3 linked regions of the Homo sapiens genome follow. The protein of the gene in region 1 interacts with the protein of each later gene in a biochemical or structural test. Each region holds a gene or a part of one and is shown in the gene's direction. Other genes may lie near its edges.

Region 1 (6,886 bases):
GAAAGTTGCTGTAGGGCCATTTAGATTAGAGAAGAAAAGAGCCTTCTCAAGAAGGGCCTTCTGGCCGGGCGCGGTGGCTCACGCCTGTAATCCCAGCACTTTGGGAGGCCGAGGCGGGTGGATCACGAGGTCAGGAGATCGAGACCATCCCGGCTAAAACGGTGAAACCCCGTCTCTACTAAAAATACAAAAAATTAGCCGGGCGTAGTGGCGGGCGCCTGTAGTCCCAGCTACTTGGGAGGCTGAGGCAGGAGAATGGCGTGAACCCGGGAGGCGGAGCTTGCAGTGAGCCGAGATCCCGCCACTGCACTCCAGCCTGGGCGACAGAGCGAGACTCCGTCTCAAAAAAAAAAAAAAAAAAAAGAAGGGCCTTCTAAAACTCCTCTGAGTCTGTATACGCTGTCATGCAAGACTAGGTGAGTCTCTAGAATCAAACAGTGATAATACCCAGATGCCTTCCAGCAAATTGTAGCACCTGTTGCAATAGGTGCCACTCCCTCCTAAAATCAGCCAGGGTGCCTTTGGACCAGAGGTAGGGTGAGCTTTTGTAGGAAGCAGGGCACTGGCTCCTGGATACAGACTGGAGAGCTTAGCTCCAGAAAACAGGAGCCATGTTGACAGAAAACCGTGCTCTACACAGTTTTCTTTCTGACTTTGTGCCAGCCCCCACCCCACCCCAACTGCAAAGATCAAGAACTCAGAGGGCTACTGTGCTTCCCTCCTGCTGATCAAAGATGAGCTCTGTCCTGGCCTTAGTCTTTTCCAAGCAGGAGGGCAGGAGAGAATCTTGCATAGCTGGCTACGGTGCCCCACCCAAGGGTCTAACTTGGGGCTCTATCACAAAAGCTGCAGCAAAATTGCCAAAAGTAGGAACTACTGGGGGTGGGGGTCCTGTCTCCCCTGCTCAGTCACCACCTCCCCTCCCTAACTCTCATTCTGGCTCATACCACGTGCTCCCAGAAGAAACGTTCTGAGCAGGGGCTGGTATGAGACTGCCTCCCCTCCCAGGACCCACTCCTCCCTATGACCAGGCTGGTGACCCTCCCTCTAGGGTGCCAGTGCCATTCACTGAGCAGATGTTTGGCAGGTGTCTGTTATGTGCCAGACCTAGCAGGGGACAGAGTCCTCCCGATACAGATGGACCAGTATGTTTGGACATAAATTGTGAAAGGAGTTGCTAATCTTTCTGTGCAAAATCCACTCTTGCGGTCACCGCCAACACTCCTACACATGTCAGGGCATCCAGGGCCAGGACTTGGTAACCCTGTTCAGGAGCAGTCGCTCTGGAGACTCCCAAGACGAGGGAAAGAAATGGGTGGAAACAGGGGCCTACACTGTGGGCCCCGCAGCCACCAAACAGTCCAACCCGTGGCCACTGAGTGCCTTGAACAATGCCTGGCTGGACCCTGAGTCTGAGTGTGTCATCAACCCAGTTTGTTATTGTCGTTGTTGTTGTTATGTATTTTTCCATCAGCTCTGTCCAGAAAGACCTCCTTCCTTTCCAAAATATTAGTAAAGGGGGCTTAGACTAGTTTAAGCCAAATACCTTGCAATAAAATGGAGTAGCCACCCTGGTGAATAAGTATATTTAGAAAAGGAAACTGCCTGCTTGGTAAGATGCTGTTCAACAGCACCCCCTATCCTGATGCCTCGCAGTCCCTGAGCCAGGAAACTGAGAAGTCCCTGATCAGACTGCAAAGGCTGCAGGCTCCGCAAGGGTGCAAGGCCACCCTCAAAGAACTAGAAGCCAGGCCTCCCGATTCCCACCCCTGCCAGCGCTAAATAGTAACCGCTGAAGGATGCAGGGCAGCTGTGAGCTGCAGTTTTCCCACAGGCAAAAATCACAAGGGTAAAATCTGGCCTCCAGCCTTATAGGGATATTCTAAGTTGTGAAAGTGCTTTGGCCACAAAGAACTGCGCAAATGTTAAATACTAGGTTTAGCCATAACAATCATTTTAGTAACAAACCAAAGAGAAGGGTGAAACACTGGCAAGTATCTTGGAGTCCAACCAGTAAGCTTCTGAGATTCCCCCATGTGCTGACTGGGACAAACTCTACCCCCCAAAAGAAAAGACGCTCTCTTGGCCCGAGACACCTGTGAGCTGTCCCAGCAGGGGACCAGCCACCTTCCCACTTTCTAAAGCTACAGACAGCTGGGATGGTCAAGTAGGCAGCCCAGGCTGATGGCTCACCAAGGCCACCTCCCTGTCTACACAGTCCCATAGACATCTGGGGCCACTTCAGTCCTAGAAAAGATGTTCCATATCTCAGCAACTGCAAGTCAAGGACAAGCAGAGAGATGTGGGACTGCTGCCTTCATGCCTGCTGCAGAAGCTGAGGTCTCAGATCTGATAAAGCAAGTGTAGTGGGAATAAGGGAATACATTACCAGAAACTGGGATTCTAGAAAACAGAATAGTTACTGTTTACTAAGTGCTAGGTACCTTTCTAACAGTTTTGCATATATGTTCAAAGTTCATGCTTAAAACGATACAAATTTATTATCTTACAGTTATGGAGGACAGAAGTCCAAAATGGGTCATACTGGGCTAAAATCATGGTGGCAGCAGAGCTGTGCTCCTGGAGGCTGCAGGGAAAAATCCTTTGCCTTCTCCAGCTTCTAGGGAAGGGTTGCTCATGTCCCTCAGCTCATGGCCCCCTTCCAGCAGTCACGAGTCTGATCTCCACTGCCATCCTCACATCTCTTTCTCTGACTCTGAGGCCACTGCCTCCCTCTTGTATAATTAAGGACCCCTGTGATGACAATGGGCCCACCTGGAGAATCCAGGCCAACCACCCCATCTCCAGGTCCTTAATCACACTAGCAAAATCTTTTTTTGCCATGGAAGGTAGCAAAGCCACAGGTTCCAGGGATGAGGCTGTGGACATCTTTGGGGAGCGTTATTCTGCTTGCCACACAGTAACCCCTGCCATAACTCAGGGCGATGGCATATTCTATCATTATCTTCAATCAGAAACTGATGTGTGGGGAGGTGATGTATCATAACTCATCCAGGGTCAGGCAGCTGGATTTGAACCTGCCTGACCCTTAGATTTGAGGTTTTCTGGCTCCAGAATCTTCTCTGAAGTGAAAGGCATGAGGCCGACCACTCCCTGATCTGGTAAACAGAGATGTCAGCCTGGTTTCTAGTGTTAGGGAGTTTCCTGGAGTGATGGTACAGGGTACATTTCTGCCCTGCATCCCAAGTCCAGAGACTGGGTTCTAGGTCCAGCCTTTCTTCTAACTCCCTGAGAGATGACAGCCTCTGGGCAAAGTCCCTCTGTGCTCTTCAGTCTCTTCATCTGTGAGATGGTGGCATGGGGAGAGGCTGGAGTGATGTCACAGTTCCTCTCAGCCTGCATCACAGGCTCTAGGACTCAGGTCCTATCAGTAACCTGCTGGGGGAGGTCTGGGCCTTCCAGGAGAAACCTGACAAGATGGTGCTGCAAACACCAACGGACACACAGCACTTTACATTCACAGGCTGTCTCAGGGGCCTCCAACAACCCTGACCATTCTTGCCCCATTTTGCAGATAGAAAACCGAGGCTCAGAGAGATTATATAACTTGCCCACGATCTTCCTCCAGCAAGATGGAGGCCAAGTGAAATGAGAAAGCAGGTCTCCTGCCACTTCCTTTGCCCAGAGGTCTTCTCCCCACACCAGGGCTTCCCAAGGGCTGAGATCCAGTCACACCTGTGCGTGATCAAATATAAGTGTGAACAATGCAAAGGGAGACGTCTTCAATCTAAGGGGCTTCAATTCTGTAATGTAATTCTGAGATTATGCCCTTTTTTGTTAAAGCCTTTCCTTTTTGAAGTGATGGTCACTGTAGATGGTGAGGGTTTTTTGGAGGCGGACAATATCTTTACATGACAAAATTAAAAGTTGGCAGCTCCGAATTGATCTCTGGAGTGTTTTGAAATGCAAGAGGTCTCCGAAACCTCAGTCTGGGAGCCACGGAGGGCTCTCCCCTCTCCCCAGGTTTACCAGTTTGGGAGGCTTGGAGAGAGGCCTGGAGGACCTGCTGGGGACTAAAGAAGAGCACTGGTGGGAGGACAGGGCGGGGGAAGGGGGAGGGGAGTGAAGTAGTCTCCCTGGAATGCTGGTGGTGGGGGAGGCAGTCTCCTTGGTGGAGGAGTCCCAGCGTCCCTCCCCTCCCCTCCTCTGCCAACACAATGGACAATGGCAACTGCCCACACACTCCCATGGAGGGGAAGGGGATGAGTGCAGGGAACCCCGACCCCACCCGGGAGACCTGCAAGCCTGCAGACACTCCCCTCCCGCCCCCACTGAACCCTTGACCCCTGCCCTGCAGCCCCCGCAGCTTGCTGTTTGCCCACTCTATTTGCCCAGCCCCAGGGACAGAGCTGATCCTTGAACTCTTAAGTTCCACATTGCCAGGACCAGTGAGCAGCAACAGGGCCGGGGCTGGGCTTATCAGCCTCCCAGCCCAGACCCTGGCTGCAGACATAAATAGGCCCTGCAAGAGCTGGCTGCTTAGAGACTGCGAGAAGGAGGTGCGTCCTGCTGCCTGCCCCGGTCACTCTGGCTCCCCAGCTCAAGGTTCAGGCCTTGCCCCAGGCCGGGCCTCTGGGTACCTGAGGTCTTCTCCCGCTCTGTGCCCTTCTCCTCACCTGGCTGCAATGAGTGGGGGAGCACGGGGCTTCTGCATGCTGAAGGCACCCCACTCAGCCAGGCCCTTCTTCTCCTCCAGGTCCCCCACGGCCCTTCAGGATGAAAGCTGCGGTGCTGACCTTGGCCGTGCTCTTCCTGACGGGTAGGTGTCCCCTAACCTAGGGAGCCAACCATCGGGGGGCTTTCTCCCTAAATCCCCGTGGCCCACCCTCCTGGGCAGAGGCAGCAGGTTTCTCACTGGCCCCCTCTCCCCCACCTCCAAGCTTGGCCTTTCGGCTCAGATCTCAGCCCACAGCTGGCCTGATCTGGGTCTCCCCTCCCACCCTCAGGGAGCCAGGCTCGGCATTTCTGGCAGCAAGATGAACCCCCCCAGAGCCCCTGGGATCGAGTGAAGGACCTGGCCACTGTGTACGTGGATGTGCTCAAAGACAGCGGCAGAGACTATGTGTCCCAGTTTGAAGGCTCCGCCTTGGGAAAACAGCTAAAGTAAGGACCCAGCCTGGGGTTGAGGGCAGGGGTAGGGGGCAGAGGCCTGTGGGATGATGTTGAAGCCAGACTGGCCGAGTCCTCACCTAATATCTGATGAGCTGGGCCCCACAGATGGTCTGGATGGAGAAACTGGAATGGGATCTCCAGGCAGGGTCACAGCCCATGTCCCCTGCAAAGGACAGACCAGGGCTGCCCGATGCGTGATCACAGAGCCACATTGTGCCTGCAAGTGTAGCAAGCCCCTTTCCCTTCTTCACCACCTCCTCTGCTCCTGCCCAGCAAGACTGTGGGCTGTCTTCGGAGAGGAGAATGCGCTGGAGGCATAGAAGCGAGGTCCTTCAAGGGCCCACTTTGGAGACCAACGTAACTGGGCACTAGTCCCAGCTCTGTCTCCTTTTTAGCTCCTCTCTGTGCCTCGGTCCAGCTGCACAACGGGGCATGGCCTGGCGGGGCAGGGGTGTTGGTTGAGAGTGTACTGGAAATGCTAGGCCACTGCACCTCCGCGGACAGGTGTCACCCAGGGCTCACCCCTGATAGGCTGGGGCGCTGGGAGGCCAGCCCTCAACCCTTCTGTCTCACCCTCCAGCCTAAAGCTCCTTGACAACTGGGACAGCGTGACCTCCACCTTCAGCAAGCTGCGCGAACAGCTCGGCCCTGTGACCCAGGAGTTCTGGGATAACCTGGAAAAGGAGACAGAGGGCCTGAGGCAGGAGATGAGCAAGGATCTGGAGGAGGTGAAGGCCAAGGTGCAGCCCTACCTGGACGACTTCCAGAAGAAGTGGCAGGAGGAGATGGAGCTCTACCGCCAGAAGGTGGAGCCGCTGCGCGCAGAGCTCCAAGAGGGCGCGCGCCAGAAGCTGCACGAGCTGCAAGAGAAGCTGAGCCCACTGGGCGAGGAGATGCGCGACCGCGCGCGCGCCCATGTGGACGCGCTGCGCACGCATCTGGCCCCCTACAGCGACGAGCTGCGCCAGCGCTTGGCCGCGCGCCTTGAGGCTCTCAAGGAGAACGGCGGCGCCAGACTGGCCGAGTACCACGCCAAGGCCACCGAGCATCTGAGCACGCTCAGCGAGAAGGCCAAGCCCGCGCTCGAGGACCTCCGCCAAGGCCTGCTGCCCGTGCTGGAGAGCTTCAAGGTCAGCTTCCTGAGCGCTCTCGAGGAGTACACTAAGAAGCTCAACACCCAGTGAGGCGCCCGCCGCCGCCCCCCTTCCCGGTGCTCAGAATAAACGTTTCCAAAGTGGGAAGCAGCTTCTTTCTTTTGGGAGAATAGAGGGGGGTGCGGGGACATCCGGGGGAGCCCGGGTGGGGCCTTTGGCCCTGGAGCAGGGACTTCCTGCCGGATCTCAACAACTCCGTGCCCAGACTGGACGTCTTAGGGCCAAGATCGACGTTGGAGGACCTGCTGGACGCCTGGCTGCTTACGAGTGAGGGAGTAGAGTCTGCCTTAGCAAGGCTCAAGTAGAAAGGAAGTCACAGCGGACCAGGCAAAGCCACAGACAATCCAAGGCCAGGTGCCCTGAAAGGGGCTCAAACAAGGCCTGCAGCCCTGTCTGAGGCGGGCCAGGAAACAGGGTTGCTTTAGCTGGGAGCAGTGGGTTCCCCGTCCCCAGAGGTGTGTCCGTATAGAGCCTTCTCCAGCCCAGCCGCTGTCAGCGGGGCGGGACGGAGCGGGGCGGCCTCAGGGAGCCAGCCACTGGGATTGGGGTTTGGTCCCGGGTGCAAGTGAAGCGCTTGGAGTTTGCGCCTGTCCTCCTTT
Region 2 (6,672 bases), on another chromosome or scaffold:
AGCATGATGCCTCCAGCTTCATTCTTTTTGCTTAAGATTGTATTGGCTATGTGGGCTCTTTATTGGTTCCATATGAAATATAAAGTAGTTTTTTCTAATTCTGTGAAGAAAGTCAATGGTAGCTTGATAGGGATAACACTGAATCTATAAATTACTTTGGGCAGTATGGCCATTTTCACAATATTGATTCTTCCTATCCATGAGCATGGAATGTTTTTCCATTTGTCTGTGTTCTCTCTGATTTCCTTGAGCAGTGGTTTGTAGTTCTCCTTGAAGAGGTCCTTCACATCTGTGGGCACTAAGTCCTTTTCTCTCCCTCTCTATTCAACTGGAAATTTATCTTTCAAGGCACATTGTAAATGTTTTCTGCTTTCCAAACCTTCCCTTAGGCCTACAGGCAGAGCTGACCTCTGTGTTCCCATCTCACTGTGTGTACCCCTGGACTATTGCATTTATCTATCTGTATTTTAATCACTTGACATTGACTTCTTCCTGAGATGGTGGTCTCTTTAGGGCAAGGACTGGGCCTTTTCCACCTTTGAACCCCTCAGCACTCAACAGTGTGCCCAGGATGTGATAGTTAATAATTGTGAGTTGAATTATTAATTCAGTCACCTCTATCCACCCATTCTTCTCCCCACAGGATCGTCTCAGGAGTCGACTGGAAGCTCTGAGCACGGAGAGAGATGAGATTGAGGATGTAAAGTGTCAAGAAGACCAGAAGCTTCAAGTGCTGCTGGTACAGGCCACGTCACTGGCTACCTTTTCCTTTGAAGGTTTTCTTAAGAGACTCTGGGGAAACCCGTTGGCTGGTATCTGTTTCCTGGCTGAAAAGAACTGACAAACTGTTCTCGTTCACCTTCCTGTGGCTGCACAAAGGCATTTGGGATCTCAGACCATGAGCACTAGAAGTGGTTCTGATGTCTTGCAATCCAAGATCCATCTTGTATATCACATTTTACAGAGCAGAAAACTTAGGACCAGAAAAGCAATGCTCCCAAGGCCACATAGCAAAGCTGAAGTTCATGAGGAACCTGGATTTCTTGACCCTTAATTCATTGTTCTTTCCATCCTAGTCTGTTTGCCTGAACACACCACCTTCAGATGGGAAGCTTGGGGTCAAAAACATATGTTAGTGTCGGGATTCTAGTCCTGACTACAGGCTGACCTTGAGGAGAGTAGGCTGATGGTGTGGCTACATCTGGATCCCTCACGCCTCTCTTTTCATGCTATAAAGTTATGGAGGAATCACAGTGTGAGGATTTCTGGTACCTTGACCAAGGAGAGAGTGTGGGGACAAAGCAACCTATCCACCATCCCTCAGCTCTCATCAACGTATGCCCTGTAGTTGGTGATTTCCACGGCTAAAACCAAAATTACACACTCTCCCACTAAGTTGTGTTGACTCCAATCACAACTTCCTTTTGCCTCTAAGAAATTATTACAGTCTTCCCCACCTAACTCTAAGAAGGCATAGTAGGGTTATGATGGTATTGTAGTTGTGGAAATATTTTTGAAAAGTTCAACATCATTCTGAGAGCATAATGTAGCATTATTATTAGAGTATCTAGCTAAGACAGTAGCACAGCCCTCATCATTGGTAAGTTCATCCTGAGACCTAACTACTTCTAGGCATATTAGTAAATGGAATGAGTCTTGGACCAGTTGCTCCCTATCCCTGTTAATCAATAATAAGTATATAGATGATCATCCTGGAAGCTATCTCTGAGCCCCTTCCTAACCATGTCTGCCTTTTATCCCTTGAAGACTCAGATCGAAAGCAAGAAGCATCAGGTGGAAACAGCTTTTGAGAGGCTGCAGCAGGAGCTGGAGCAGCAGCGATGTCTCCTGCTGGCCAGGCTGAGGGAGCTGGAGCAGCAGATTTGGAAGGAGAGGGATGAATATATCACAAAGGTCTCTGAGGAAGTCACCCGGCTTGGAGCCCAGGTCAAGGAGCTGGAGGAGAAGTGTCAGCAGCCAGCAAGTGAGCTTCTACAAGTGAGAGACACTTCACCACTTTGTAGGATAAGAGAGGGACTCCACGGGGAAGGGGGTGGGCACCATGCTTTGGGCTGGAGAGAGGCAGGAAAGGGAAGTGGAGAGAGGTTAACGGGGTGCAGATCCAGAGGGGCTGGAGACTTGCCCAAGTCATACACTGTGGTCATGTTAAGGGGTTTAGGGTCAGACAGTCTTGGATTTGAATGTTGGCTCTTCCAATTGTGTGACTTGAGTGAGTCTCTTAGCCTCTCTAAACATGGGGACAGCAATAGCACCTCCCTCATAAAGTTATTGCAAAATTATAAGAAACAATCCATAAAAAATGCTTGGCATGATTCCTGATATACAGAAAGAACTCAATAACTGGTGTCTGCTATGGTTATGAATATGTGATCCTGGCTCACATCAGGTCCAGCTGATAACTGAAGGCAGGCCCCTGCTCTCTACCACCTCCTAATCATTGCAGACACAACCCACCCCCACGATAAGGCTGAAACAGGGAAACCAGCACAAATGAACTGACTACAGAAACCCAAATTAGTAAGAAAACATGATGTAAAAGAACAATCTAATGAGTAGGTAATTAAACAGGACAACTCTCTGCAGAAGGAGAGTTTTGAGTTCATATTTTAAGGGAAAAGTGATGTACAGAATCCCTGACAGGAAGGACTTATGGAAACTAAATGTATGTTCTTGTCTTTCTTTTGCAGGATGTCAGAGTCAACCAGAGCAGGTAGGGCCCACTCCCCGGTCCTGCCTCCTTTTACTCAACATCAAGACTGAATGGGAAGGGGCAGGGGCACTTACTGCCACCCACTTTGCCAGGAAAGCAAAGGCACTCTGGCAGACACACTGTCTCATTCAACTGTGCACAAACAGTCCAAACTCACTAAAGATTTGCGTTCTAAAGGTTCATTTTTAAATTGATTGGTTGGTATTGGGGACACATTTTTTCCCCTAGAAGTGAAGTTATAAATAATAATCATGTTTTTAGGTTGATCCAGGAACATTTATTTAATCTATGAAATTATTAGTACTTGAGTCAGTATCTAACACCATTTAAAATGTAATTTAAAGGGGGAATACTTTCTGTAGACTATGATAAGCATGGAAACCAGGAATACCAGCCTGTTCTTTCATTCATTCATTTTTTACACACATCTCTGGTTTCCTTCAGAATTTTCTAATGCTACTGTAAAAGGACAGCCACCAGGAGCCAGTGGCATTGTAAATGCATGGCCCTTTCCTTCCCTGTCTGCTATAAGCATTAGCAGTCTGCACTGAGATGAAGAGAGGTGTAGTGACTAGGGAACAATTGTCACGTGCTTTGTGCCTATTCCCGTGCAGGGAGGATAAACCCAGGGTCCATGAATCAGGAAGTGTCTCCAAACATGCTTTTCAAAGAGCATTAGAGGTTTAGATCTAGAAGGGCTTGGAGGTCTTCCAGTCTGAGGAAGAAACTGAGACCCAGGGGGTGAAGAGTCTTCAAGGTAATGCAGCAAGTGTCTAATGAGGACTGAGCTGGGACCAGAATCAGGAGTTTTTTTCATTGCAATATATATTTTCGTTGATCCTTTTTTTTTCTTCCCTTCTAGCCTCTTTTCCTTTACAAATAGCAGCATACACAAGGGTAGTTTAAGGCTGTTTTCAAATGGTACCCTGTTGCCCTCTAGAGACCAAAAGGGGTAATGATCTCTGTCCCTCAGCCCCTACAGAACCAAACATTCTCCTAAAGGGGCTTACCTCCAATTCTTGAGAAGTGATTATCCTTAGTTCCTCTTAGGTTTAACTGAAATGCCTACTATTTTAGTAACTACACATTTCCAGCAAAAGTAAAGAAATGATACTCAATTTCATTATTCACCACAGACGCCAAGATCATTCTTTAGTCTGATTTTAGCCTCACGTGGTCTCACCCGAACATTTGTTTTTGGAATTTGGACCTAACTGGTTACCAAACCTGTCTGCAGGTGTGAGATGAAGACTTTTGTGAGTCCTGAGGCCATTTCTCCTGACCTTGTCAAGAAGATCCGTGATTTCCACAGGAAAATACTCACCCTCCCAGAGATGATGAGGATGTTCTCAGGTAAAGGGGAAGGCGCCACAGTTTTCCCCAGTCCCATTAGCTGCCCTCCTGTCTTCCACCCATCTCCATCCTTCTCTGCCCTTGAAACCTGGCTCGAGACATCTTCCCTCCCCAGAGCCTTCCCTTAGTGATCTCAATTTATTCAGGGGCACTATTCCCAGAGCATCTCCTCCACTCCCTAAGGACAGGTGCAGGACTGAGAGTCCAGGAGGGTGAGGACCCTTCTCCTCCACTAGACCACAGCAGAAGCCGAGTCTTCTGTCCTCATCTTCACATTGTACTCAAGTCACCTTGCCCCTGGGGGTGCCTATAAGAAGTAATAAGTCACAGATCTCTCTTTCTATTTCTGCTTCCCTCAGAAAACTTGGCGCATCATCTGGAAATAGATTCAGGTAAACAGCTTGGGATTTGGGGAGTCATTCTTCCATTCATCCATTCAATCCATGGCAGCAAACAGAGCAATAAAATGCATGAATTCTGGAGCTTGATTGCTTGAGTTCTCGATTCCAGTTCTTGCTAGCTCTGAGACACTGGGCAAGTTATTAAGCCTCTGTCCCACAATATTTTCTTCATCAGTAAAATGAAAATAAAAGTACTGTACCTGTCCCATAAGTAGCTGTGAGGACAAAATAAATTAATACATGCAAAGAGCTTAGTATATTACCTGACTCATAGTAAGTGCTCAATTAATGTCATCTACTTGTGTAGATATTACTCGTTGAAAAATACTTATCAAGCCCTAGTTTTTTGAGAGCATTGTGCTGGGCTCTCTACTGATTTGAACAAAAAATGTGCAATTTTTTAAAAATCACATTTATTTTTAAATTGGTGCTTAATTTAGAAGTTGTTTCCATAAGCATCACCTCACTCACTCTGGTATAGGTAAGTGCTTTTCAAACTTAATATGCAGAAACGTCTCCTAGGGATCCTGTTAAAATGCAGATTCTGATTTAGTAGGGTGGGATGGGGCCCAATATTCTGCATTTCTAACAAACACCCAGGTGGTGGGGATGCTGCTGGTCCCTCCCGCTGCACTTTGAGAAGCAAATCCTTAACAGCACCACTTGCTGATTAGGTAGAAGGGCGGTTCAGAGAAGTGGCCCAATGGCAGGCTGCCCAAGTCCAGTACTCCTTCTGCCTCCCACGTGCGTTGCCTGCTCTAGGAACATCTGTGGTTGCCGCCCGCTGTTGATGTCTGCGCGCTCCTCCCTCTAGGGGTCATCACTCTGGACCCTCAGACCGCCAGCCGGAGCCTGGTTCTCTCGGAAGACAGGAAGTCAGTGAGGTACACCCGGCAGAAGAAGAGCCTGCCAGACAGCCCCCTGCGCTTCGACGGCCTCCCGGCGGTTCTGGGCTTCCCGGGCTTCTCCTCCGGGCGCCACCGCTGGCAGGTTGACCTGCAGCTGGGCGACGGCGGCGGCTGCACGGTGGGGGTGGCCGGGGAGGGGGTGAGGAGGAAGGGAGAGATGGGACTCAGCGCCGAGGACGGCGTCTGGGCCGTGATCATCTCGCACCAGCAGTGCTGGGCCAGCACCTCCCCGGGCACCGACCTGCCGCTGAGCGAGATCCCGCGCGGCGTGAGAGTCGCCCTGGACTACGAGGCGGGGCAGGTGACCCTCCACAACGCCCAGACCCAGGAGCCCATCTTCACCTTCACTGCCTCTTTCTCCGGCAAAGTCTTCCCTTTCTTTGCCGTCTGGAAAAAAGGTTCCTGCCTTACGCTGAAAGGCTGAAGTGGGGCGCGCGAAGGGCGGCGAAGCGGAGACGGCGGCTCTCCGGGATCCAGCTCCGCCCCTGGCCAGTGTGCGGCCCGGGGGCTCCCTGTGCCCGCGTGAGGCGAGAGAACAGGGGACTTGAGTCTCGAACAGCGGTTGTTTTTACTTTATTTATCTTAGGCCCTCAGCTCCCTGACGTCCTGAGCCTCCCTGTGACGCTCTGGCCTTCTCTGTACCTCAGAGTGCAGAACCACAGACGGCTTCGGCTGTGCCTAGGGCAACAGCCAACCTAGGAGCCAGCGGGCTTTCGGGGAAAAAAAAGAAAAAGACATCTAAAATAAAATGTTTAAACTGTTTCAAAATAATTATCTTGGGAAAAATCAGGGTTTTGCTGGACTTGCACTAATTTGTACAGTTAACTTCGTACTTTGACACACACCTGAAGATGCCTCCACCTTTGTAGGGCTTAGGGCCTTTTTATCAGCCCTGGGTGGACCCCAGGGCCCCTTCCTTTCCCTTCCCTTCTGGTCATTTCTCTGGACTTGTAGAGAATGTCCTAAGAAAGTGTGACTCACAGACCTCTGGATTCCATGTGTCCAATTAGCGCTGATGGGACTGGAGAAAGGCTTAAATCCAATGGGATCTGCCTGTGTTGGCAATTTAGGGCCGAGATGGCTCGAGGGAGTAGATGCAGAGAGGAAGGGTGATGATCCCTCTGTGACCAAGACACAATCCTGTCCCTTCTTTTAGTCAGGATATCCCTGATGACAGACAGTGGGACAATCACCAGGCCCCATTGTTTAAGAAAACGAGGCTTTTGCTCAGGTCTAACTAACCTCTCAAATATTTGTTATTACTGCAGTTATTATTTGG
Region 3 (7,907 bases), on another chromosome or scaffold:
AGTTCTCATCCAGCCCTTCCCTTGGTCTAACATCCTGCATCACTTCAGTTGGGCCCATTGGCTGCTGCTAGACTGGCCTGCTGCCTGCCTGAGACCTAGTCCAGTGCCATCACACACTCGCATGTACACACACACTCCCCAGGAGGTGTCCTGGCTTGGAGAGGGGAGTCATTGGCCCTGAATAGGAACCGAGATCTTCAACTTGGAAAATATGAAGTGTTAAAATGGAAGAACTGCCTGAGCTGAAAGTGTCAGAGGATGATGCAACAAATACAAAGAGAGAGATGGGAAGAAGGGTCAAGTCTGAGCCAGATCAGAGGCGGGATAAAGATTGGGACTTGAAGGCAGGGGTTTGGATGTAGGAAGGTAGGATAAAGTAAAAGCAGAACAGAATCAAAGAAGGAACTGGGAAAGAGAAGTCTTAAGTGGCTGCTTATTAGTGAATGGCATTTGTGGGCTCTTATGTTTGTAGTTTGGTGGCCCCAGCCAAGGGTGGAATGGACACCACCAATCACCCCTTTAAGCCCAGTTCTCAGGCAAGGCTTTGCAGGGGCTGTCCCAGGTTGGGCTGACAATAAGCCTAATCAAATTGGAGTTATTCCAGCTTTGAGAGGCCTGTTCCTATGTCGGCTGTTCCAGTCACATGCCTCCCCAGCCTAGCACAGGGGCTGGCACTGGCCATGGTCCTGACCAACACCTAGTGCTTTCCTGGCTGCTCAAGCTGGCTGGGTGCAGATGGGAAGATAATGGAGGATCTGATCTGAAAGGTGGTGAGGATGCTCATACTTGACCGTCTTGATTTACTCCTAGGGAGAAAGGAGAAGAGAGAGTGAAAGTGTGTGTTTGAGGAGAGTGATGATTTGGAACAGCTACTCTAGCCTCCAGGAGTTCTGAAGAGGATGACCAGGCAGCTGTGAGGTCTCAGTTAAAGTTAGACATCAGGAGCATGTCATGTGTGCAGTCATGCTTCTGGTTCTGAGGCTTTCCCCAGCAATGGTCACCATCATATCTAGGAACACAAAGGCTCCATGGTTCTGTAACACCATGCCTGGCACATGAATGAATGCATACATCGGTGAGTGAGGAAGTTCAGACGTAATGACAGAAGGACATAAACTCTGTGCCCAGATGTGAGGTGGAAGGTATCTTTGAATTCAGATTTAGCAAAGGGAAAAGAAGAATCCTGTGCTTGGGAGTGCGGGTGGTGCAGAACTGTTCCTGTGCTCAAATATAGGATCGAGGGATCAGGAAAATTAACACAAGTTTAAAGAAGAGCCTTTGATGTACATGTGCTGTGAGTAATTGGTAAGGATTTCTTGGTGCCTTCGCTTTTCCATGAGGTTTAAAGACCTTTTCCTCATGTGGGAAGGAGTGGGGACATGGGGTCAATATGCAGCTTAAATGGACCAGAAGATAAGATAAAAACTTATGGAGCTTATGAGTTATGCTTCTGCCTAGGAAACAGAAAGCTAGAATCATGTAAAATAGCACCCCAAATCATAAAATATTTAGGTAGAAATTTAACAATATATGTGCACGATTTGTATGCTGAAAACTGAAAACACTGATGAGAGAAATCATAGAAGAAACAAATAAATGGACAGCTGAACTGTGTCCATGGCTTGGAACACTCAACAGTGTTGTCTATTTCCCTCTAAAACTAAACCATAGAGTCAATGCAATCCCAACTGAAAGCCCAACAGATTTTTGGGGGTGAGAAGAAGAGGATTAGAAATCCACAAGCTGATTTTAAATTTTACATGGCAAAGCAAAGTAACTAGAAGAGTCAAAACCATTTTGAAGAACCACTGTTTGATTTTAAGACAGTGTAAAGCTACAGTAAGTTATCAAGACAGTGTGATATTGGAGAAAGAATAGACATATAGATCAACGGAACAGAACAGTCAGAACTAGACCTACATGTCAATTGATTTTCAACAAATACACTAAGGTAATTCAATGAAGAAAAGAAAGTCTTCTCAACAAATTATGCTAGTACAATTGGACATTCATATGTTGAAAAAATTGCAAAGTGCATCTTATACCACATGCAAAAATTAATGAAAAATGAATCATAGACCACAATGTAGAACCTAAAACTATAAAACTTCCAATGGAAAACATAGGAGAAAATATTTGTGACTCTGAGATGGGCAAACTTTTTAACAGAGCACAGAAAAGCACAAATTGTAAAAAGAAAAATCAAGGAATTGGACTTCATCAGAAATAACATCTATCCATTTAGGCTGGGTGCAGTGACTCATGCCTGTAATCCCAGCACTTTGGGAGTCTGAGCCAGGCAGATCACCTGAGGTCACGAGTTCGAGACCAGCCTGGCCAACGTGGTGAAACCCCGTCTCTACTAAAAATACAAAAAAATTAGCCAGGCGTGGTGGCAGGTGCCTGTAATCCCAGCTACTCAGGAGGCTGAGGCAGGAGAATCGCTTGAACCTGGGAGGCGGAGGTTGCAGTGAGCTGAGATCTCACCATTGCACTCCAGCCTGTGTGACAAGAGCAAAACTCTGTCTCAAAAAAAAAAAAAAAAAAAAAAAAAAAAGATGCTGCTAATGCTGCTAAGGAAATGAGAAAAAAAGTTACAGACTAGAAGAAAATATTTGCAAATCACATATCTGATAAAGGACTGCTATCCAGAATAAAAAGAATTTTCACAGCTCAATAATAATGATAATAATAAACAATTAAAAATGGACAGGACAAAAGTTTTGAACTAATACTTTGCTGAAGAAGGTACAGATGGCAATAAACAACAAAAAGATGTCCAATATCGTTACTCACTAGAAAAATACAAGTTAAAATTGAAGGAGATATCACCTTAAACCTATTAGAAAGGCTTTTTAAAACCTGACAATATTAACTGTTGACAAGGATGTAAAAATGGTACAGCCTCTTTGGAAAAGACTTTGGCAGCTTTTATAGACTTAAACATACACTTACATGTGACCCAGCAGTCCCATTCTTAGGATTTTATCCAAGGGTAATAGAAACATATGTCCACACAAAACATATGTACATGAATGTTTATAGTGGCTTCATTTATAATTGTCCCAAACTGGAAACAACCCAAATATCCATCAGCGGGTGAATGAATACGCTACTTGTGGTTCAACCATAGAATGAAAGATGGTTTAGCAATAAAAAGGAATACATTCTTGAGAAGTGAAACTTCACGCATGCTGAATTTATTCTGATGAGTGAATAAAGACTGACCCAAGAGGCTACATACTATTTAATTCCATGTCTATGACATTTTAGGAAGGGCAGGAAGCTACAGAAACAGATGTCAGCTTAGTAGTTGCCAGGCCCTGGATTGGAGAGAAAGAGACTGGCTAAAATGGGCACAAAGGCTCTCGCTTAAGCTAAATGAAACTTTCTATATTATGGTATTGTGTTACACAGACATGGTGATTGTGGTGGTTGTTATAGAGATGCATGAGTTTGTCAACATTTACACAACTAGACATTTAAAAGGGGTAAATTTTTGTATATGTAAATTATGGGCCAATAAACCTGACTTCTAGAAAAAGACCCTAGAAGAGTACCTACAGAGTGATCTTCAGGCAGCCTCAGACTTCAGCCCCCAGGCCCTTGGGGCAAGGCCGGGCAGTTGGCCCTTTGAGTGGAGGCCTGTCTTCTCCTCACTATGAATTCCCCATCTCCAAGCACATTCCCTGTCCGTAAGTTAGATGCACAGTAAATATGAGTAAATAAATGAATAAAAGAACAAATAAGTGAGTGTTTGCAGGAAACTAAAGTAGACCCTGATAATCTACAGGCTCCTGCAGGCTTCTCCAGCCTCTTCTGCCACTCCCAGCACAACTCCATTTCCCACTCCTAGAATTGACTCAAGCCTCCTCCATCCAATCCCCGACTCACTGGGCCATTTCACACTTTTGTGCCTTTGCACACGTGGGTCCCTGTGCTTGGATCACCATGGGAACCTGTACGTGTAGAAAAACACACCCCTACCCCCAGAACTCTGAGAAATATCCTGTCCTGTCCTGTAGGATAGGATGATCAGGAGTTCAAGCATGTGTGTGCACAAAATAAACACCAGTGTGAGCATGTGTGCACAGGAGACACCCAACAGTTCCAAGAAGGCTAAACTTGGGCAGAAAATTCCAGGTGGGAGAGAAAATTTTCTGTCTTATGGACAGCCCATTTCCCTTTTCCCTTCTAACTAGGATAATGGTAATAGTTAGTATTTGTTGAATGCTGTGTGTCAGGCCCTACTGGAAAGCACTTTACCTGTAGGAACCCATATGGTGCTCCTGATAACCCTTTGCACTATCATTATTCCCACTGTATAGATCAGGGAACAGACACAGGTAGGTTTTGGATGTGTGGTTACACACCCAGAAAGTCAGGAAGTCTGGCTCCAGAGCTGTGTACTTAACTGCTGCCACACTACAGGAATGACAGCCCTGGGGGGATGAACTAAGAGGTGCTGGATGAGGGTCCTGGCCTCTAAAGGCACAGCTGTTCTCCAACTCTTGCAAGGCTGAAACCAGAAGATGGCGGGCATTGCAGCTGGTGGAGGGTCTGAATACAGCTGTGAGGATAGTGATCCCTGGGCTAGGCTCTGCAAGGAAACTGAGCAGTGCAGGGCCTTACCAGCCCCAACCATCTGGGGGCCACCCTGGCTGGCACCAGCAGGAGGGTGGGCTGGCTTCTCAGAGGTCTGGGAGACTCAGCCTCCTTCTGCCAGGGCTGCAGTGGCCGACTCCTCCTCCCCTCTGTCCCCACCCTGCACCGCCTCCAGACCCCAGTCCTGACTATTGCTTAATCCCCAGGAGCCCAGTTCCTGTGGGCAGCGCCTGACATGCCTGATCCTCTCTTTTCTGCAGTTCAAGGGAAAGACGAGATCTTGCACAAGGCACTCTGCTTCTGCCCTTGGCTGGGGAAGGGTGGCATGGAGCCTCTCCGGCTGCTCATCTTACTCTTTGTCACAGGTAGGATCCCCTCCGTGCCCTGTGATGCCTTCTCTCCCTCACTTTGAGCATGTGGTTGGGGCGCGGGTGGTGGGCCCTGGGGTGAATTATGAAGGCGGTGGCAGTCCTCGCATGCCTGAGTGCCCTGTTCTGCACTCCTCTCCTCCCCACCCTGCCCATATTCTTCACACCCTCCTTCCCTCCCCAGTATCAAAACCTACCCTCAGACTCTTTCTGCATGTGGACATGTAAGGGGCTGGTGGACTCTGGTTGCATTGGAAGGGAAGGAGTGCTAACAGTGGCATCCCAGGCACTAGCTGGCAGTTGGGGGAAGCTTTGGGGGGCACTGGCACTGGTAATAGCCTCTGAAATTATAAGCCACTAATTATGAGCCCCTACAGTTATAAAGGAGGAAAGAACCTGAGGATGTTCATCTGCATCTTTGGGGCACTCTCTCCCCTGCTCTGAAGGTCCCCTTGTCCTCAGCTCTTGATGGGAGGTGAGGAGCGTAGAGATTTCCGTTGCTGAGTTGAGGGGAATTGACACACCAAATTTTTGTACACAATTGCTTCTTCCCGCTGAGGAAAGCGCACCTTTTGCTCCCCCAGAGCACTGGACAAACCTGGGCAAGAGGAGAGACGGTGCCAAATGGAGTCTTGTTCCTGCAGCTTCTTAGATGGTGGTCAGGGGGAAGGCGGGGTTCTGAGGCATGGATGGGAGGTGGTCAGATGGGAGAGGGCCACGGCCCATCTGGTCTCTCTAGTTCCAAAAGGCAAGCCACCAACTTCCCAATCCTATCTTTCAAGCCTCTGTCACAGTAATGGTTGAAGATGGCAGGCAAGGGAGGACCAAGAGAGAAGTCAAAGCAGGGGGCTCTGGGGGCTGCCCCAGCAACAGGCTGGTGCTCTAAGCCCATCTCCCCCGCCCTAAGGAGGGTTCCCAAAATAGCAGCCTCATGTCTCCCCCAAAATATCTCCGAGACGGGTCCTTCCTGAAAGGGGAACAAAGCCACAGAAATAGGGAAGCTGGAAGTTAAAGGTCAGGAAAGTCGGTACCAATGTGGGCGGCTGCAGAGCAAGCAAGAGTGGCGGGGCAGGGAGAGCCAGCCCCAGGCCGAGAGGAGAGGTCCCAGTCCCAAATGATGGCAAAGAGATGTGCAGAACAGAACTGGAGGGGGTTTTAAGACCAAGTGCCTCCAGAATAGACCCAGAGAAGGTCAGTTACTTCTCCAAGGAGGCCCAGCAAGAGCAACAGTGAGAAAACCAAACCCAGGTCCCAGGTTTCCTGGTTCCCAATTTCCCACAAACACATGCTGTGCCATCCGCTCCCAACTTGTATAAGAACCTAAGCTCCTTCAGGGCAGGATTTTTGTCTGTTTAGGTCACTGCACAGAGCAAGTGTTCAAAGCGTATTTGGTAAACAAAGGAGTGAATGAATGTCTCCTCCCCAGAGCTGTCCGGAGCCCACAACACCACAGTGTTCCAGGGCGTGGCGGGCCAGTCCCTGCAGGTGTCTTGCCCCTATGACTCCATGAAGCACTGGGGGAGGCGCAAGGCCTGGTGCCGCCAGCTGGGAGAGAAGGGCCCATGCCAGCGTGTGGTCAGCACGCACAACTTGTGGCTGCTGTCCTTCCTGAGGAGGTGGAATGGGAGCACAGCCATCACAGACGATACCCTGGGTGGCACTCTCACCATTACGCTGCGGAATCTACAACCCCATGATGCGGGTCTCTACCAGTGCCAGAGCCTCCATGGCAGTGAGGCTGACACCCTCAGGAAGGTCCTGGTGGAGGTGCTGGCAGGTGAGTGGGCAGTGGCTGCCTCTCTGGCCTGCCCCTGTTCCAGGCCTCATGTTTTGGGCGTCTGTGTGCAGAACCACCCACTGGGCTCTCAGGGATCCTGGGAAAACCCATCGTATGGTCTCATCTCCCTACTCAGGGCTACCAAGGATAGTTGTGCAGGTTGCTCACTATACAAGGGGGCCAAAATCCAGCCCGGACTCCTTTTGCCAGACTGTGTTCCCTGGTGCAGAGCTGCATCACCTGCAAGAAGGGCACCTTTCTCTACTTTGCATTAAGGCACTCTGTGAACTAGCCTGGCCTTGGCCCTCCTTGCCCAAACAGCTTTATCCATCTCCATCCAGTTAGCATGTGAACATGATAGGAGGTCCTTAAGGAGGAGGAGATTAATTTATTCCCTCACCAACCAACCAATGGCCCTATCAACGTAAGTGAAGCACCAACCTGGTGCAGAAAATCACCCCTAGAAAGGAACACTGCTTGTGCTGGGCAATGTGCTTCACTTCTCTGGGCCTCCATTCTCTCATCTGTAAATGGAGAGGGTGGTGTCTGTCCTGCTGACCCCATAGGGTTCCTGTGAGTTTTTATTTGGCGGGGGGCGTTGGGGGCAGGGTGTGACATGTGCTCCAAGCCTCCTGCTACTGAACTGTCTTGGGATCGTCATTCCAGGTGTGAGTAGGTGGGCCAGGGTGTCTCCTTTCCACCCCCGAGCTCTGCGCAGGGACCACCCTCCAGGAAGGCCTTCTGCTTGAGTCTGCAGAACACAACTGTGTCCCCAAAGGAGAACAAATCTGGGGCTACAAAGGCCTTTTCTGACTCTCCTCCTTTCCAACCCCTTCTCCCAGTATGGCTCTTTACCATGGAAATGAGGTCAGGAGTAGTATTTGCCTGACTTGGGGAGGCCAGGGGAGACTGCCAGTCATAGACACAAACCCCACCTCCACCACTTTCCTAAGGATGGCCGGTGGCAGTGAACTCCCTTAGCCACCTCCCAAGAGGGAGACAGAAAAATAAAAGTAGCCCATAGCTTGTGTAGACAGCTTGACAGTTTAGATAGGATTTTCAAGTACATCCACGATTGTATTTGCTCTTCTTAGCCCCTGTGCGGAAGGAGGGGGGCATTGCAGTTACTGAGCTCCGATGAGGTGCTGGATACGGCA

The links.
Region 2: the proteins of APOA1 (region 1) and TRIM15 form a complex in vitro, tested with the Homo sapiens proteins (one study listed by BioGRID).
Region 3: the proteins of APOA1 (region 1) and TREM2 form a complex in vitro, tested with the Homo sapiens proteins (one study listed by BioGRID).

The regions. Positions count from the first base shown.
Region 1 is NC_000011.10:116,835,239-116,842,124, reverse strand, and holds APOA1 (apolipoprotein A-I isoform 1 preproprotein), read left to right. Parts: upstream 1-4,502; 5' UTR 4,503-4,520; exon of another isoform or gene 4,521-4,606; intron 4,607-4,717; 5' UTR 4,718-4,737; coding exon 4,738-4,780; intron 4,781-4,967; coding exon 4,968-5,124; intron 5,125-5,713; coding exon 5,714-6,317; 3' UTR 6,318-6,374; downstream 6,375-6,886. UniProt on the Homo sapiens protein: Participates in the reverse transport of cholesterol from tissues to the liver for excretion by promoting cholesterol efflux from tissues and by acting as a cofactor for the lecithin cholesterol acyltransferase (LCAT).
Region 2 is NC_000006.12:30,166,533-30,173,204, forward strand, and holds the end of TRIM15 (E3 ubiquitin-protein ligase TRIM15), read left to right. Parts: intron 1-643; coding exon 644-739; intron 740-1,767; coding exon 1,768-1,998; intron 1,999-2,708; coding exon 2,709-2,731; intron 2,732-3,968; coding exon 3,969-4,084; intron 4,085-4,443; coding exon 4,444-4,476; intron 4,477-5,299; coding exon 5,300-5,817; 3' UTR 5,818-6,161; downstream 6,162-6,672.
Region 3 is NC_000006.12:41,160,106-41,168,012, reverse strand, and holds the start of TREM2 (triggering receptor expressed on myeloid cells 2 isoform 1 precursor), read left to right. Parts: upstream 1-4,896; 5' UTR 4,897-4,930; coding exon 4,931-4,970; intron 4,971-6,399; coding exon 6,400-6,750; intron 6,751-7,907.